Homo sapiens: one gene and its partners. The protein of the gene in region 4 purifies or fractionates together with the protein of the main gene of each other region. This does not show direct contact. Each region holds a gene or a part of one and is shown on either strand. Other genes may lie near its edges.

Region 1 (4,277 bases), on a different chromosome or scaffold from region 4:
TAATTGAGTAGCTATTATGTTTTGATATTGTAGAAAGAATAGAAATGTTCAAACTTAAAGGGGTTTACATTTTAACGGTTTAGTTTTACAAAGAACTTTCATTTGATATAATAAAGGAAATACAATAGAAATCTATTTTTGTAAGCCCATCTGATGATAATTTATATATATATATAGTGTTGAGATCACGGAAGGTTATTTTTGTTCCCTGTTCGGATTTCATGTGTGTGCCTCTGTATCTCCATAAACAATAGAAGCTCAGGAGGAAGGGCCGCGTCCACTCCTTTTGCTCATGTCATTGTGATGCCTCACTCTTTGCCTGTCTCACGGTAGGCACTGGAGATAGATTTACACATGAATAAATAAATAAATAAGACTCATGCCCAATACAGTTTTTGTCTAAAGACACATATAATGTTTAAGGCAAAATTGCAAACAGAGCAGAATTGGATAGCACGCACCATACTTTAAAATCAAGTGTTCTTTCTGTATTGGTAGCCACATAAAGCAAAATGCAAGAAAGATGAACTTTAATCAGGCACAGGAAGAGACTTGGAAGTTATTCTTTGTCTCTCTTTCCATTAAAATCCCTTCCTTCACACCAATGTGGTTGTTGTTTCTCTTTTATGATGTAAGAAGATAGATTTTTTTTATTAGTGGCAATGACAAAAAGATTTATTTCAGTTGGTGTAAAATATGCACAAAGGGAGACTTTAAACAATGATGTTTTGCAATTTTTACAATTAAGCAATTAGTGTTTCTCTCCATACTCTAAAACACAGTCACAAACCAACATTCTTTTTCATTGCCTCCCAAAGAATTTGTGCTCTCAGAGGTTTAGTGAAGATTTCTTTCTCTACATGATTTTTGTAATGTTTATATTAGACTGCTGCTGTTCTAGAGCTGGGGAGTCTTTTAATATTTCAACTTTCTCTATTTGAATAAACGCTTTTGTGCTTTACCTCTTGAGTCTGTCATCCCTCTACGTCGTGTGCATATATTAGACATCTGCACAAACACACAAGTGCACATGTTAACGGCATGCCTTCTATTCATTACCCACATACAAGAGCCCCTGTCATGATTTAACTTCCCTGAAGCAAAAATTTGATTAAAAACTCAGGTGATTACATAAAATTATATGAACTCTCACATTTGTTATACTTAAAAACAAAGAACCTTAACTTCCTAAATGGCTAATAAATATTTCCCTGCAGGTCAGTCAGTGCTGAATATATACCCATCTTTAGTTCCTGAGAGTGAAACAGTATAAGGATGTTGGAATAATGCTTTGCTACACATCAAAGCTATTATACTTCTAGAGGCAACAGCTTTTGCTCTCAGTTCAGTATCACTCAGGGCTGTCAAAGTTTCTACATTCCTCATGCTACTGTCTTGGAGTTTTTTCAAAAGCTACTGCTTATCCTAGTACTTTTCCTAGAACTCCAACAATGATGTTTATCTCAAAATTATTTCTTCTTCAGAAAAAATTGGCATAGAATTCTGAGAATTTTCAAAATTTCTCCTTGAGCCATGTATTTTGGATTGAAAACTCTGTTAGAATTCTTTGAGAGCCTGGATAGTCCTTTAAAAAGGTTATCTGTAGTAGTAACATTTAGAATTGAAGCATGAATAAAATATCTTTGTGTCTGTGGTTAAATTAGGCTACCTATGTTTTTCTTTACCTAAGGAATAGTAAAAGGTATTGTTTTTTAATAAAACAAATCATTTGTAGATCCCCAAATTTATAAAAACAATGTCCTTTTTAATTGTACACATCAGATAGTGTCTGAGCTTGTATATACTTTACATTTCTGTCCTCAGTCCTGAACACAGTCTAACACAAAGAGGGCAGGTACTTCCTTAAAGAATGTGGCTATTTTCACAGCTATAAGCCCAATGCAAGCACAGCATCTGCTCCAGACAGGGATGAGTGAACCCAGCCAGACTTGGGGTTTGGAGGAGGTCAGAATCTATTCTACTGATGTTTCTGTCATGTTTATTAAATTGCATTTTTTTCCCAAATGCAATTACACTTTTAGGAAATATTGCAATTATTTTAAAGAGAGGACATTTTTATACTTCCGGTGGACTTAAACTAATAAAACCTGCTTTTTGTTTAATCATTATCAGCGCCCTAGGTATATGCTTTGAGCTCTCCTGCTATGGGTCTCAAGTCCTGCTTCTTAGCAACAGTAAGGACCCTCTACTCGTTTGTTTTTAGCCATAAGAAGAGATTTGACTTGGGTTAGCATTTTCAGGTAGGAGGAGGCTCCAGTTTCTGAGAACTGAGCTCCCCATCCTATTTTAATACCACCTTTGAGAAGACGTATTTGAGAAATCACATCAGACATTAGGGAAATGATGAGGCAGAGCTTCTGTCTGTCGGCAGTGGGAAACAAGAATCAAAGACTTCATCTCAAATAAATGGAGCAGCACAGATTAATTAAATCGATAAATTCTCCAAAGCACATCCTGGTTAAGGGGTTTAAAGGAATTCTTTCCATTATGTGCAAATCACCTGAAGGTGTTGAGCTATCATTTGGGCATAAGATTCACTCCATCTATTAGAGGCCCTAGAGAAGTGGGTTTACAAATAGATTCTGAGCAATGTTCATTTTATTTATGATCCAAATGGCAAAACAACAGCCACAGAGAGAAACCTGGATCTGTTTTGCAAATGAGTGATCTGTTGCTGGCACCGTTAAAAAGACGTGCAGTGATGAACGTGGCCAGATTTGAGTTAGAGATCCGTAGGAGTGAGACGGTACTTAACACCAAAAATAATAACTGCCCCCTTTCACCTTTGCATCCCCACTGCTGGGTTTCTCTTTCTGATCCGTGGGAGATTTTGCTTGTACACAGTGTGGCCCTCTTCCGCGTGAGGCTTCAGCTGGTGTGACCATTTGCATCAGAACTGAATTAGCTGTTTAGTTACACAAACACGAGGGTCCTAGTTGCCCTCTGCCTTGGAAGCAGCTCAACGAAGCCACCTGAATGCCACAATTTTAAGTGTACACAGCTGAAAAAACTTTCAAAAATTTCACCTCTTAGAGAGTTGAAATAAATTTCCTTAAAATCTAAGTCACCTGAGCATTTATATCATCTTTCTCTTCGAACTTAAGCACACATGTTACTCTTCTTTTTTTATAGGAATGCATGATTTATTGGACACTATTTCTTAAGTATAAAATCCCCTCCTTAATATAAATATGGAATTTAGATGATCTGTTCTGCTATGTTTTCAGATTAAAAAACTGAACGTTAACTATTGATCATTTTTGTAATTTAAAACAGATGATACTAAATTCCAATATATATGTATTTTATAACCCAAAGAGGACTTACCAGACATTTTCCTGCCAGAAACTAGATACTAACTGTATTCATTCACCATCAATAAAATAATACAATGTAATTATTTTGCTGCTCTTCCTACTCAATACCTATGACTAGAATAAAAGGTGATTAAATATCCACAGTGCATATGGAGGGCCTGGGAAATTCAGATTAACTCTTTATTTCCAAATATAGATCGTTCTTCAGAAAAGTCTGCTATCTTTGCAAATGACCAAATTTTAGGGGCTGGAGGGAGATTGTGGATCTCTTGAAAAGCAAACATGTCAGTTTCTAAGTTGCTAATATTTGGATGTGGTTTCCGGGAAAATGGATTCACTCATAAACTTGCAGATGGAGATTCAGGGCCTACGAGCCCTGTTTGCTAGGGCGTTGCTTAAACAATGTCAGGCAAGCAATCAGATAAAATAGCCCCGTCCTCCATTCCTTTTAAATCAAATAAACGAGTAAATAAAAGCCCAATTTTAATTGCTGAACAGGGATGTCTTGATACTAAGACAGTAACATATGCAAGCAGAGAGGAGTTCTGGCTCCAAGGTCCTAAATTTCTCAATGTTCCCTTCCCTTCCTGTTTTCTAAAGTCTCACCAGAGCACGTTAGCTGTCCCTGTGAACCAAAAATTTTATAAGCATTGTTTCTTCTCTTTTTGAATGTAATGTCTCTATTTGATATTGGTATGTTCTTAATTGAGTTATATCAAAAGCTAGGAATAAACAATCGCCTTTGAAAAATCAAGTATTAAGCAGCCTCTGTTTCTCTGAGTGGAGAAAAAACTTTTAATTGTACAGATAGAGGTTAATTTAGTTTCATTCTATTTGCAAATACTTAACAACACGAATCAGGTTCTCGGCCACACACCAGGCAGAGTGCAGCCCCTGCTGCTTTTCTTGAGCTATCCTAACCACAGAGACGGCATCAAC
Region 2 (4,277 bases), on a different chromosome or scaffold from region 4:
AGGTGGTGGTGATGGGATCTTAGCGGCAGCCCAGGTTGTGCATGGAGCCTCACTGAGAGTCAGCTGACCTGGTCTTGGGCTCACATCCTCCTCTCTGACCTCTTCCTTGGCTGGGCCTCCCAGGCCAGCTTATTTCTAAAGGCCCTTCATATTCTGACATTTGAGGATTTTCTAAACCCATGGCCTTCTAGAGCCAGTAAGGAGAAAAGCAGAAAAATGCAGGGGCATTGAGAGGTCTGGAGTAATCAAACACTGAAGTGCTTTCTATGAGCCTTGCAAGGTGGGAACCGGCCAGCCAGGAGCCTGGTGCTCTCTGCAGTAACGTAGAGCCAGGTGTGAACAGAGCTCTACTCCTTCTGGCTCTGTGATCGTGGGCAGCTCACTTTACCTCTCTGAGCCGTAGATTTCTCATCAATAAAGTGTGCATAATAATAGTTTGTGATTTGTAGGTTTGTTTTGGAAATTAAATAATATGAGTAAAGTCTGTGTATAGGTGTACAGTAAGTGACCAATCAATATTAGCTACTATTGCTGCAACTGTGTCATAAGAAACACTGGCAGGACTAGAGATGTTTATCCTGACCCTGTCCCAAGGGGATCTGATGTATCTGCAAATCTCTGCAGGGCTGTCAGGCTGGAATGAAAGAGAAAACTTTTTGTTGTTGTTGTTGAGATGGAATGTCGCTCTGTTGCCCAGGCTGCAGTGCAGTGGCGTGATCTCGGCTCACCGCAACCTCTGCCTCCCTAGTTCAAGCGATTCTTTTGCCTCAGCCTCCCAAGTAGCTGGGATTACAGGCGCCCGCCACCACGCTTGGCTAATTTTTGTATTTTTAGTAGAGATGGGGTTTCACCATATTGGCCAGGCTGGTCTCGAACTCCTGACCTCGTGATCCACCTGCCTTGGCCCCCCAAAATGCTAGGATTACAGGCGCGAGCCACCGCGCCCGGCTGAGAAGACTTTTTCTCTGTGCAGCCTGGGGAGGCAGAACCACATCAAGAAAGCGGATGATGGCTGGACGTGGTGGCTCACGCCTGTAATCCCAGCACTTTGGGAGGCTGAGGTGGGTGGATCACTTGAGCTCAGGAGTTCAAGATCAGCCTGGGCAACATAGTGAAATCCTGTCTCTACAAAAAATACAAAAATTAGCCAGGCATAGTGGCATATGCCTATAGTCCCAGTTACTCAGGAGGCTGAGGTGGGAGGATTACTTGATCCTGGAAGGTTGAGGCTACAGTGAACCATGATGGTGCCACTGCCCTCCAGCGACAGAGCAAGACCCTGTCTCAGAAAAAAAAAAAAAAAAAAGTGATTGGAAGTGAATGTAAGGAGGAACTTTCTAGCTGAGGAATGTTAATTAGTGGAAGACACCTCCCGGGGGAGTGAGCTCGTCACCTGAGTATGTCAGCAGAGACTTGCACACTCAGCATGTTGTTTTGAAGATGCAAGAATTGTGTGGGAATTGGACTTGGTGACAGCCACCTCTGAGATTCCGAGGTTCTGTGTTTTGGGGCAGTAAGCTCTGCCTCCGTGTAGCTCTGGAATCTCCTGCTATTTGACCTTCAGTCAATCCCCTGTGCTAGAAGAGTATCTGACCTTTTCCAGGGAGTGGAATGGGGTGACCAATTGCCAGCTTATGCCAGGATAGCATGAGCCCTCTGTCTGTCCACCTGGGCTTCATGGCAGTCAGGCCTTGGCATTTTCATGATCTCTTTGTGGCCTCCCAACACTCATGTCAAGTTAAGGAGACTGTGGCTCTGAGAGGTACAGTAACTTGCCAAGGTCACACGGCTAGCAAATGGCAGAGCTTGGATTCAGGCCAGGAGGCCTGGTTTCTAAGCAGAGCAGGGGAGACAGACACAGCATGAGCTGAGCAACCTCTCAGAGCCCTCCAGTGTGGCTGGCACCCCATCCCTTAGGCTCCTCCCAGGGGAGCAGCCTGGCTAATAGATGGCTAATAGACATCTTTAATAGATAGGGTGATCCAGGCAGGAGAAGAGTCCTACTCGGGGGGAGTAATATCATGGGTGGGTGGGATAGGCTGTGTGCTTTCACTGTTTCTAATAGGTTAGGGGAAAACCAGGTTCGATGGAGGAGGGAAGAAGGAGGTTGGGGCCAGAAAACCTGTGGCTGCCCCAGTGGAGCTGCTGTGACGCTGCTGGTCACAGCTTCTTTGCTCTGTGTGGGCCTCCCTGCGGGTCCCATGTGGGGTCACCCGGCTCTACCCTGGGCTACTCTCTGGATCTCTGTTTCCCACCTATAAAACAGGGTGGTGATGAAATACCTCCTCTGTCAGAATTCTTCCAGCTCTGAGAGTCCATGAATTCAGAGCCTCGCTGGCAAGATGCCTGGAAAGACTGTCCCTGGAGACAGACTCAGCATGCCATGGCCAGTGCTAATGAGGGCAAGGGAGGGGAGGGCAGGGTCAGATTCCTCAAGAACTAATTAGCTTCCCACAGTAGGGAGGAGAGGGGCAATGGAGGGAGGAATTTTCTTAGCCACTGATGTTGCTGGTCACAGGCTGATCCATCCACCTGTCTGTCAATGCATTTGTTCATGCAGCATTTGTTCATTTATTATTCAACAATTATAAATTGAGCATCAACTGTGTGCCAGCTGGCCACTGGGGATAGAAAGAGAAATGGTTGCCTATGGTGATCTTATAGATTAATAGGGGACTGAACTCAGCCTGATCTCAGGACCTCAAATCCCAGACTGAACCCCGACCCATGATGACCTTGTTCCTGCCCCTTATGTCCCAAAGAGACCTTTTGGGATGAGTAGACCACTTGAGCATGGACTAGAGACCCCAGAAAGAACAGTTCTGACTCCAGCTTTGTCACCCTTGGCTTTGCAACCTTGGGGCAGTTCCTTATATATCTCTGAACCTCCGTTTCTTCTTCTGTAAAACACAGGCAAGCAATGCTTGTCTCATTGTGGTCTTGTGCAGATAAAATAAAAGAATGCAATGTTCTACAGTAGTCATTGGTGAAACTAGCTCAATTTGTTACTTTTCTAGTGTTAAAAGATGTGAATTTTAAAATGAGTATTTAAGTAAAACTAGGAAGAAATCCTGGGAGGAGATAGAAGAAACTGATTGTGATACAGAGTAATCAGGGATGGGGTGACACTTTTTACTGTATACCTTTTTATGTTTTAATTTTTAGGGCCAGGTATAGTGGCTCATGCCTATAATCTCAGCATTTTAGGAAGCCAAGGCCAGAGTATCACTTGGGCCCAGGAGTTTGAGACCAGCCTGGGCAACACAGGGAGACCCCTTCTCTACAAAAAATACAAAAAAAAAAAAAAATTGGCTAAGTGTGGTGGCGCACACCGATAGTCCAGATATTTGGGAGGCCGAGGTGGGAGGATGACTTGAGCCCAGGAGGTTGAGGCTGCAGTGAGCTATGATGGTGCCACTGCATGCCAGCCTGGGCAACAGAGCAAGACCCTGTCTCAGAAAAGTAAAAATAAAATAAAAATGAATGAATAAATAAATTTTTAGACTATGTGAATGTATTACCTACCCTAAAAAGGGGAAATATTAGTGGCGTCTCTTTATAAAATCAAAGCACATGCCTGTAATCCCAGCACTTTGAGAGACTGAGGTGGGCGGATCACTTGCGCCCACCTGAGTTTGAGACCAGCCTAAGCAACATGGTGAAACCCTGTCTCTACAAAAAAAAATACAAAAATTAGCTGAGCATGGTGGCATACATCTGTAGTCCCAGCTACTTGGGGAGCTGAGGCAGGAGAATCACTTGATCCCAGGATGTCGAGGCTGCAATGAGCTGAGATCTCATCATTGCACTCCAGCCTGGGTGACAGAGTAAGGTACTGTCTCAAAAAAATAAATAAATACAAATTAAAAAAAGCAGACGGTGGTTTATTAAAACATTTTTGTTTAAAAAAATTAGAGCACATTCCTATGCTATAATTCTGAAAGTATAAAGGGCCCTAAGGAAGGCACACAGAAAATATTCTGGGGGTTCATTTGTGCATTCAGCAATATCTACCGAGTGCCACTGTATGACAGGTGCTGTTCTAGGGGCTGTTGTTAGAGTGATAAACAAGTCAGGTGGCCGGGCACGGTGGCTCACGCCTGTAATCCCAGCACTTTGGGAGGCCGAGGCGGGTGGATCACCTGAGGTCAGGAGTTCGAGACCAGCCTGGCCTACATGGTGAAACCCCATCTCTACTAAAAATACAAAAATTAGCCGGGCATGGTGGCACATGCCTGTAGTCCCAGCTACTCGGGAGGCTGAGGCAGGAGAATCAC
Region 3 (4,277 bases), on a different chromosome or scaffold from region 4:
AGGACTTTACCAAGAAACTAACATTTACACTTTCTGACGGAACTGAAATACACTGAATTACAGGCATATTCACTGAAACAACAAAAAAAATTCTGTCCATGTAAAGGCTATATTTTTTACCCCCAAAAAAGTGTTTCAATTCTGATACTCACACCACAACTGGTTAAGAAAATAAAGCGCAGTGTTTAGCAACTGAGCATCCTAACTACCGTAAGAGGCACTCTGTGCTCACCCCTTCCTGGCAACCGCTGAGGTCAGCAAGGCCAGGAGCAAGGAGAGCCTCCTATTTTTCAACACAAGCTGCTGCCGTCTCCTTATTAAAGCCCCGGATGGAGAGATCATAGACCACTTCCTCTACTTTCTTCACGTCATATTTCAATCCGTCGTAGCGCTTCCTCAGGGAGTCATTTTTCAGGTTGAGAAGGCGAAAACCGGAATCCAGCTCATTGATGAAGGTGGAGATGTGGAGGGGTCGGGAGTAGTCTCCAGCAGTCACGCTGTTGACAGACAGCCTCGACTGTACCAGGAAAGAGAAAACAGGGGCTTGTTACAACATGGCTCCTTCTCAGCGCATCTTCCTCTGAATCACAACCAGAAGAACCGCAAGCCTAGACAGCCACGCTGATCTTCTATCTCAGGGTACACACAAGTACAGACAAGACAGGAGCTTCTCTGAAAAGAATCCCACTGAAAATGAGACCAGTTCTGCCAAGTAAAATTTAACATTACTAACATCTAAAATTTCTCTAATTTCTTAAACTGGCTATTGCATAATAAAGTGTTACATTACACAAGCATCTTTACAGCTCATCTGCTATCATATCGAAGAAAGAAACGACAAAATAATCACAGCAGCTCCACTACCTCTTCCAACCTTGGCCAAATGATCACATTTCTAGAGCCCACCTACTAAGCTGCAACTCCAGTCACCTAGAATCAAGTAAGGCAGACTTGGGATAAGAATCTAAAATTATGTTAGTGTAACCCTGTCTTGAAGGAGAACTAACATTGATTTCAAGACCCAACCCAAGACTCCCCTTCTCGGTGTCAGTATACAACCCCCTACTGCTCCATTTGACTGGCTTTAAAAAATATATTAAAATAATAAAAAAGATTCCCCTTTCTGTAAAATCCTCTCCACTTTTCCAGGCTTACCCCTTTAGTGCACTGTCAACATACGGGTTTTTTGTTTGTTTGTTTGTTTTTAATATAGAGAAGGGGTCTTGCTTTGTTGCTTAGGCTGGTGTGGAACTCCTGGCCTCAAGGGATCCTCCCACCTTGGTCTCCAAAACTGCCAGCATTACAAGCGTAAGCGACTGTGCCCGGCCCCAACATGTATGGTCCTAAAGACACCTTACACTTAACTAATACTAACAAGATGCTTCCTGTTTACTGGTCAGGTGTCTCCAACAAGCCAGACAAGTGGTACAGCCTACAAGTGGACCCCATCATCCATTCTCACCATCTTCCTCAGGTTTTCAATGCACACATACCCACTCCAATAGACTCCATTTCTGCCTCCCTGCAGGCAAGGCACCAGAATGTTAACAGAAGTTGTGTGTACAACTTCAAAGAAATGTCCTTAAAGCGGGAGGGCATACCATTTTCCCTATTTCCTCCTACTGCTGGCTAGAGTGAAGATGTGACTAGAGCAACAGTTCTGGAACATAAGAAAGAAGCTGAAGCTAGAAGAACCTAGGGCCAAAGATCAAGGAATCATCAGACCAGCCCTGGACTGCTTTCCTCTGGAGCAAGGACAAGCAAACTTTTTCTTAACGAGCCAGATAGTAAATATTTTCACCTCTGCAGACTGGCACAGTCTCTATCACAACTACTCAATTTTGCTACTGACAGCTTTTTTTTTCTTTAGACTTTTACAGGGCAATTTCCCTAGATAGTGGTTAAAGGAATAAAGGATAAGAATAACTTAGTTATATAGACAAATGAGTGTCCAAAACAATTACATGGATTAACAGTTACCAGGAATAAATGTTTTGCCACTACCCTAAAAGGAAGAGGTCTTATCATCGGTTAAAAATTCTTAACTCAGTAAGTATGCACTCATCATTTGATCTGGCTTTTCTCTGATGCCTAGTAAATTGTAACACATACAGTGCCAGTCAGTGACTACCTGGTGACCGAGAGATGGCTTAGAAAAGAATTAAGACGTTCTGAATTTTGGTACCCATTTTAAAAACAGACAGTGGGCCAGGCACAGTGGCTCACGCCTATAATCCCAGCACTCTGGGAGGCCAAGGTGGGCGGATCACGAGGTCAGGAGATCGAGACCATCCTGGCTAACACGGTGAAACCCCGTCTCTACTAAAAATACAAAAAAAAATTAGCCGGGTGTGGTGGCGGGCGCCTGTAGTCCCAGCTACTCAGGAGGCTGAGGCAGGAGAATGGCATGAACTCGGGAGGCGGAGCTTGCAGTGAGCCGAGATTGCGCCACTGCACTCCAGCCTAGGCGACAGAGCGGGACTCTGTCTCAAAAAAAAAAAAAAAAAAAAAAACTGACAGTGAAGCAGAAAGATCAAAAAAGCAACCAGCAAGTTACTGAGCTTACCAGTTCACTGGCAAGAATTAGAACTCCTGAGAGATAATCTTCTACATCCAGATGAAATCCTTTCTCCCGATCTGGCTCAACTAAAAAACACATGAAAATAAAGTCATGCTGTGAATGCAAGTTAAGCCTCAGAATATAAAAATATACACATAATTTCTCCCAAAGTAAGTGAAGAAAGGATGAATCTTTTAAAAACTGGCTTTTTAATATATTCACAACCTTGGCAACTAGACCTCACTATGGATTTTTTGAGTTCTTAAGCAAAATTCAATTCAGTCTTCCCTCAAAAATACTATCAAAAACAGTATCTAGTTGTGTCACAGAATATACTTCTTGTTAGAAAGCACATGATAAAGCATTTCAGAAAGGAGTTACGATATTTGCAACTTTCAAATGGCTGACAAAGACACACACAAAATGAGAAGATTAAGCAGATGTAGCAAAATGTTAACAAGTGGTAAATCTAAGTGGCATGTAAACAGGTATTCATTGTACTATTCTTTCAATTTTTCTGTAGGCTTGAAATTTTTAAAAATTCAATTTTAAAAACTAAAGCAAGTGCAAATGTGTTTGCCATTGTTATTTTTAGCTTTTACATTTCCAGGTAGAGTCGGCCCTCTGCGCTAACCAACTATGGATAGAAAATATTTGGGAAAAGGCCAGGCGTGGTGGCTCATGCCTGTAATCCCAGCACTTTGGGAGGCCAAGGCGGGCAAATCACGAGGTCAGGAGTTCAAGACCAGCCTGGCCAACATGGTGAAACCCTGTTTCTACTAAAAAAATACAAAAAATTGGCTGAGTGCGGTCACTCACGCCTGTAATCCCAGCACTTTGGGAGGCTGAGGCAGGCGGATCACCTGAGGTCAGGAGTTCAAGACTAGCCCGACCAACATGGAGAAACCTCATCTCTACTAAAAATACAAAATTAGCCGGGTGTGGTGGTGCATGCCTGTAATTCCAGCTACTCAGGAGGCTGAGGTAGGAGAAATGCTTGAACCCAGGAGGTGGAGGTTGTGGTGAGCTGAGATTGCGTCATTGCACTACAGCCTGGGCAACAAGAGCAAAACTCCATTTCGGAAAAAAAAAAAAAATACAAAAAATTAGCTGGGCATAGTGGCAGGCACCTGTAATCCCAGCTACTCGGGAGGCTGAGGCAGGAGAATCACTTGAACCTGGGAGGTGGAGGTTGCAGTGAGCGGAGATTGCACCACTGCACTCCAGCCTGGGCGACAGAGACTCTGTCTCAAAAAAAAAAAAATATTTACATAGCACTTATACTGTATTAGATATTTTAAGAAATCTAGAGATGATTTAAAGTATGTGGGAGAATGTGTATAGGTTATATGCAAATACTACACCAGTTATATAAGGGACTTGAACATCCTCAGATTTGGGTATTGGAAGAGCTCTGGAAGCATCATCCTCAGATACCAAGCTACAACTATAAGTGGTTTTTAGTTAATTCTTGTTTGTTTTAATAAACAAAGTACAACCACCCTTTCCACCAAAAAGTAAGCAACCATGCCTGATTCTGCAGATCCCACTAATAAAGACACTTACTGCCAAGAATTTCTGTAACTGCTTCTCGAGTCACTAGTGTTTCTGTTTCCAAATACACAACAAATGCTGCCAAGAAGACCAAGCGCTGCAACACAAACCTCCAGTGCTCATGAAATCTGCATGAAAATAAGCACATTTAGCCTCCAAGGTT
Region 4 (5,055 bases):
AATAACCTGTGGCATATGTATACGTTGTGTTTGTATATACACACACACTCCTTTAACAGTATATATGTAGGCTAAAGTCCGTAAGGAAAATGATAATTGCAGACTTGAACTTTTCAAGAACAGTACCAAATTATCTGCTTAAAAGGCTGTATCATTTCATTCTTGCCAACAGTAGTACTTGGTTCAAAGAAGGGTTCATTGCTGTAAGAACACAATACATTGAATTGCCAGGGAGAGGAATGAGCTTACTTTAGCTTCTATTTCTCTAAGGCCTTCCCTAAGTTGGTCTTGCTCCATTTTAAAGATTTCCTCTACTCCTCTTAGGCCATCATTTTCCTTAGTAACAAATCTTACATCCTGAAGGTTTTCATGAAGCTTCTGAGTCAATCTTAATTTCTGCGTTTCTACACTTTCCAGAGTTACATTCCAGGCCTCTAACTGCTTCTTTAACTGACCTGTTTGATACATAGTTTCCCTAAGATCATTTTTTACTTTAAGAAGTTGAGGCTGGGCCTGGCGGCTCATGCCTGTAATCCCAGCACTTTGGGAGGCCGAGGCGGGTGGATCATGAGGTCAGGAGATCGAGACCACCCTGGTCAACACGGTGAAACCTCCTCTCTACTAAAAATACAAAAATTAGCTGGGTGTGATGACATGCATCTGTAATCCTAGTTACTTGGGAGACTTGAGGCAGGAGAATCGCTTGAACCCGGGAGGCAGACATTGCAGTGAGCCGAGATCATGCCGTTGCACTCCAGGCGACAGAGCGAGACTCTGTCTCAAAAAAAAAAAAAAAAAAAAAAAAGAAGTTGATGTTCTTTCTCCTGAAGTTCTTGGATCTTGAGATAATCATACAATAAGTTAGGATTATCAGTAGATATAAAAAGATCAATGATAGTTTCTAAATTGAGTAGGCAAGTAAGTCTTCACTTGCCTTCAATTTTAGGGTAATTCATATCTTGTTTCATTACACAAAAAGTTTGATTCAAACTCTCAGTAACTGAGATAACTTAAAAATAAAATACCTGTGCTTTTAAGGCATCATTTGAGTGTTCTAAGTCCTTTTGCATATTTGATATTTCATTTGTTTTCTCTGAAACAATCCCTCTTAGTTTATCAATAGTTTCTTGGTGCTCCTTCAGATGCATGTGAACAATTTTTAGCTCCTCTTGTTTTTCTAGGTCCTTTATCAATAGAAAAATAAAAATAATACATTGAGAGTAGTACCATCCACATGCTATAGAAAGGTATAGGGCAGGAGGTAAAAATCTTCCACCCTCTTCTGAGGCCTCCTAGTTCTCACCCTCTAAGCTACTTTTAGATGTCAATACATTCTAGATACACTATTCCTGAACTTACCCTGTTCCCTAACAGGACACTTCACCCTTCAAATCAGCACTATAGCTCTACCACATTTTTTATTTGTGGCATAGAATTCCATGACGTGAATGTGCTGCACTTATTTAACCAGTCCCTTACCAATGGATGGTTAGAATTTTCCCTGTTTTTGTTTGTGTTATTTCATTATTGCAACTTGTTGCAAAGAATATCCTACAAATATCTTTATACAGTTGTGCAAATGTGTGGAGGATAGTTACAACTGGACTTGTGGATCAACGAATAAACCTTTGGAAAAATTTGGAAGGTATTTCCAAATATACCCTCACCAACTTTCCTCAATATTGGACCAATTTTATCTTATTTTATTATTTTTTATTTTATTTTACTTTTTGAGATGGAGTCTTGCTCTGTCGCCCAGGCTGGAGTGCAGTGGTGCGATCTTGGCTCACTGCAACCTCCGCCTCCTGGGTTCACGCCATTCTCCTGTCTCAGCCTCCCAAGTAGCTGGGACTACAGGCGCCCACCACCACGCCTGCCTAATTTTTTATGTTTTTAGTAGAGATGGCGTTTCACCATGTTAGCCAGGATGGTCTTGATCTCCTGACCTCGTGATCTGCCCGCCCTGGCCTCCCAAAGTGCTGGGATTACCGGCTCGAGCCACCGCGCCCGGCCTGGACCAATTTTATACTCCCACCAACCCTATGGCAGATTTTTCTCTTAGGACTCAATGTCATAGTTACTAGAGGTGTAGAGAGATGGTAACTCACTCTAGTTATAGTTTCTCTAAGGTTTTCCTTGAGCTGGTCTCTCTCTACTTTGAGAGTCTCCTCCACACTCCTAAGGTCATCTCTTTCTTTTGTTACAGATCTCATTTCTTCAAGGTTTTCATGTAGTATCTGAGTCAACCTTATATTCTCCGTTTCTATGTTTTCCAGGTTTAACTTCTGGGTCTCAAATTGCTCCTTCAAGTGTTCTATTTCACACATTTTCTCCTGAGTCTCATTGACAGCTGTCATCTTAAGAAACTGATATTCTTTTTCTTGAGATTCTTTCATCTGAGAAAATTATAAAGTAAGTTACAACATAGGCAGAATTTTTTTAGGAAAAGGAAGAACTGTTCCTAAAATAAGGCAATCATTTTTACATTGTAATCTAATGTATGTAGTACTTTCTTTCATAAGGGATATGAGTAACAATAATTAGATGTCATTTTCCAATTTAACAAGTCCCACTTTTTCCTGTAATTCACCATCAGAATTTCCTAAATCCCAATGAATATTTGCTACTTGAGCTGTCTTCTCTGAAATATTCTGTCTACTAACAGTTTACTGGTACTCAGTTGAATATAAGCAGTTTTTGATTCCTCTTTTATTTCCGGTCCCTTTATGATTAGAGGAAAATTAATAAAACTTAACATGAACACCGTCATTATCACCTTAACACTATTTCTGTATCCAAAAAAAAAAAAAATAAGATGGGAACTTACTTTAGCTACAATTTCTTTAGTGTTTTCTTTCAGTTGGTCTCTCTCTATCTGAAGGGCCTCCTGTACTCTTTTCATTTCCTCTTTTTCCTTAATCATAATTTGTATTTCTTCTTGACTTTCTTGAAGTCTGTTGGTCAACTCGAGCATCTTACTTTCTATACTTTGTAGTGCTGAATCCTTGGCTTTGCGATGCTCCTTGAATTGTTTCAGTTCATTCACTTTTTCCTGAACCTCACTAATTTGTTTTATATTAAATTGTTCCTCTTTCTCATAAATCTCTTGGATCTTAAACATAATTATAAAATAAGTTAATAGTCATAAAAATATGTAAACACACACACACACATACACAACTTAAGAGGAAAAGGTTGCTTCCCAAAACAATTAAGCATGCCAAATAGTAGTCTTCATAATTCAGTTAGCTACTCCAAACCCACCCATTTCCTCCCACTGTTTCTTCATCCCCAATTTACCTTGTTCTGTAATTTATCATTGATTGCTTCTAACTGCTTTTGAATGGTTGATATTTCAGTTTCCTTCTCTGAAAGATTCACTCTTAACTCATTAATAGTTTCCTCTTGTTCTTTCAGGCAACAATGAGCAACTTTAAGTTCCTCTTCAGTTTCCAGGTGCTTTATTATTAGAGGAAATTCCAATAAATTTATAGAAACATTATAACTATTTTGTTGTAATTAACTCCCCTTTCCAAATATTTAGGGTTTATAATAATATTTGGTTACAAAATATTTTTTAAAAACATGGTGAAAGATGAAACCTACTTTAGCTACAATTTCTTTTATGTTTTCTTTGAGCTGGTCACTTTCAGATTGAAGAACTTCTTGCAGCCTCTGTAGGTCATCTTTCTCCTTAGCTACAGATTTCATTTCATCATGACTTTCTTGAAGTCTTTTGGACAATCCGAGCATTTCTATTTCTATCCTTAGTAGTGCTGAATCTTTGGGTTTGAATTGCTCCATCTCACTCACGATTTTGGTAGTTTCATTGTCTTTTTCTTTCATATTTAAGGACTGTTCTTGTTTGCTTTGAGACTCCTGGATCTTAAGAGAATCATAAAACAGTACAGTTGATATCCAGAGATATTGTGTTTTAGGGGAAAATAAATCAGGATGCTTTCTAAAACAATTAAGGCAGGATTCAGTGCCTCATTTACAGAGCAATCTCTCCATTCTCCCACTCTTCCATTATTCAGGCATTTAATGCTTTTTAAAAATTGAGGTCTCACTGTGTTGTCAGCATCTTATTCGAGGCTGGAGACAAAATGATGAGACTTACAGGATCTCTCTCTTTTTGAGACTTATACTTCAAGGACAAAGATAGATATGATGTTGAATCTTACCAAATAGAGATGCTGGCTTCTCCTACGGCCCAAGTGTCAAATATAATCTATTGTGAATGATAGGAAGGGATTCCTAGAGGAGAAAGCTTTAACTGAGATCTGAAGGATAAGAGCATTAGTTAGGCAAAAAGGAGTATGGAGGTACTGCAGGTAGAGAGACCTGAGAATCTGAAAGCCATGAGCTGCGGAAGAGAGTTGCTGGAGAACAAAGAATAGGAAGAAGAATGAATTGAAATAAGACCGGCAAGATCTGCACCTAGGGCCTCATAGGCCACATAAAGGATCCTGGTCTTTATTTAAAAAGTAGCAATAAGATATTAAAAGAATGTAAGAAAGGATAACTTAGGCTTAGTATAGAAACTGGATTAGAGAAGTCTAAGAATGAGTGTGGGAAGACCAGTTAGGAGACTACTGCAGATAGCCAGGGAAAGAAATGATGTTGACTTGGATTAGGGTGGTGGCAGTGTGGAGAGAAAAGCAGGATGACTTTTAAAATACACACTCAAATCAATAAGATTTGGTGACTGGATTACAGAATAAGCAGAGAAGGAGGCATATTAGTAGGGATAGCTCCCAGATTTCTGACTAAAACAATGAGAAAGCACAGTAGTGCTTTATGAAACATTAAAGGAACAGGTTTAAAAAAGAAAATAAAACAATCTCATATTTGGTTTCACCCTTTCTTGTAATTTAGAATTATTTTTTCTAAATTATTTTTTGAATATTTAAGAAAACAGTTCTTTTCTCTGAAACATCTTCTCTCTGTTTCAATACCTTCTTGGTATTCAAGAGCAATTTTTAATTGTTCTGTTTCTAGTCATTTCATGATTAAGAGACATTAAAAAAACTGGTAACATAATTATAATACAAA

The links. The genes of interacting proteins can lie anywhere in the genome.
Region 1: the proteins of CENPE (region 4) and ADARB2 purify together in Homo sapiens (affinity purification with mass spectrometry; one large-scale study listed by BioGRID and IntAct). This does not show direct contact.
Region 2: the proteins of CENPE (region 4) and SYNPO purify together in Homo sapiens (affinity purification with mass spectrometry; one large-scale study listed by BioGRID and IntAct). This does not show direct contact.
Region 3: the proteins of CENPE (region 4) and TSN fractionate together in Homo sapiens (co-fractionation; one large-scale study listed by BioGRID). This does not show direct contact.

Annotation. Positions count from the first base shown.
Region 1 is NC_000010.11:1,727,526-1,731,802, forward strand, and holds part of ADARB2 (double-stranded RNA-specific editase B2), read right to left. Parts: intron 1-4,277.
Region 2 is NC_000005.10:150,642,883-150,647,159, forward strand, and holds part of SYNPO (synaptopodin), read left to right. Parts: intron 1-4,277. UniProt on the Homo sapiens protein: Actin-associated protein that may play a role in modulating actin-based shape and motility of dendritic spines and renal podocyte foot processes.
Region 3 is NC_000002.12:121,761,374-121,765,650, reverse strand, and holds part of TSN (translin), read right to left. Parts: intron 4,243-4,277; coding exon 4,127-4,242; intron 2,647-4,126; coding exon 2,567-2,646; intron 518-2,566; coding exon 284-517; 3' UTR 1-283. UniProt on the Homo sapiens protein: DNA-binding protein that specifically recognizes consensus sequences at the breakpoint junctions in chromosomal translocations, mostly involving immunoglobulin (Ig)/T-cell receptor gene segments.
Region 4 is NC_000004.12:103,142,223-103,147,277, forward strand, and holds part of CENPE (centromere-associated protein E isoform 1 precursor), read right to left. Parts: intron 3,886-5,055; coding exon 3,607-3,885; intron 3,460-3,606; coding exon 3,301-3,459; intron 3,113-3,300; coding exon 2,828-3,112; intron 2,397-2,827; coding exon 2,109-2,396; intron 1,185-2,108; coding exon 1,026-1,184; intron 1-1,025. UniProt on the Homo sapiens protein: Microtubule plus-end-directed kinetochore motor which plays an important role in chromosome congression, microtubule-kinetochore conjugation and spindle assembly checkpoint activation.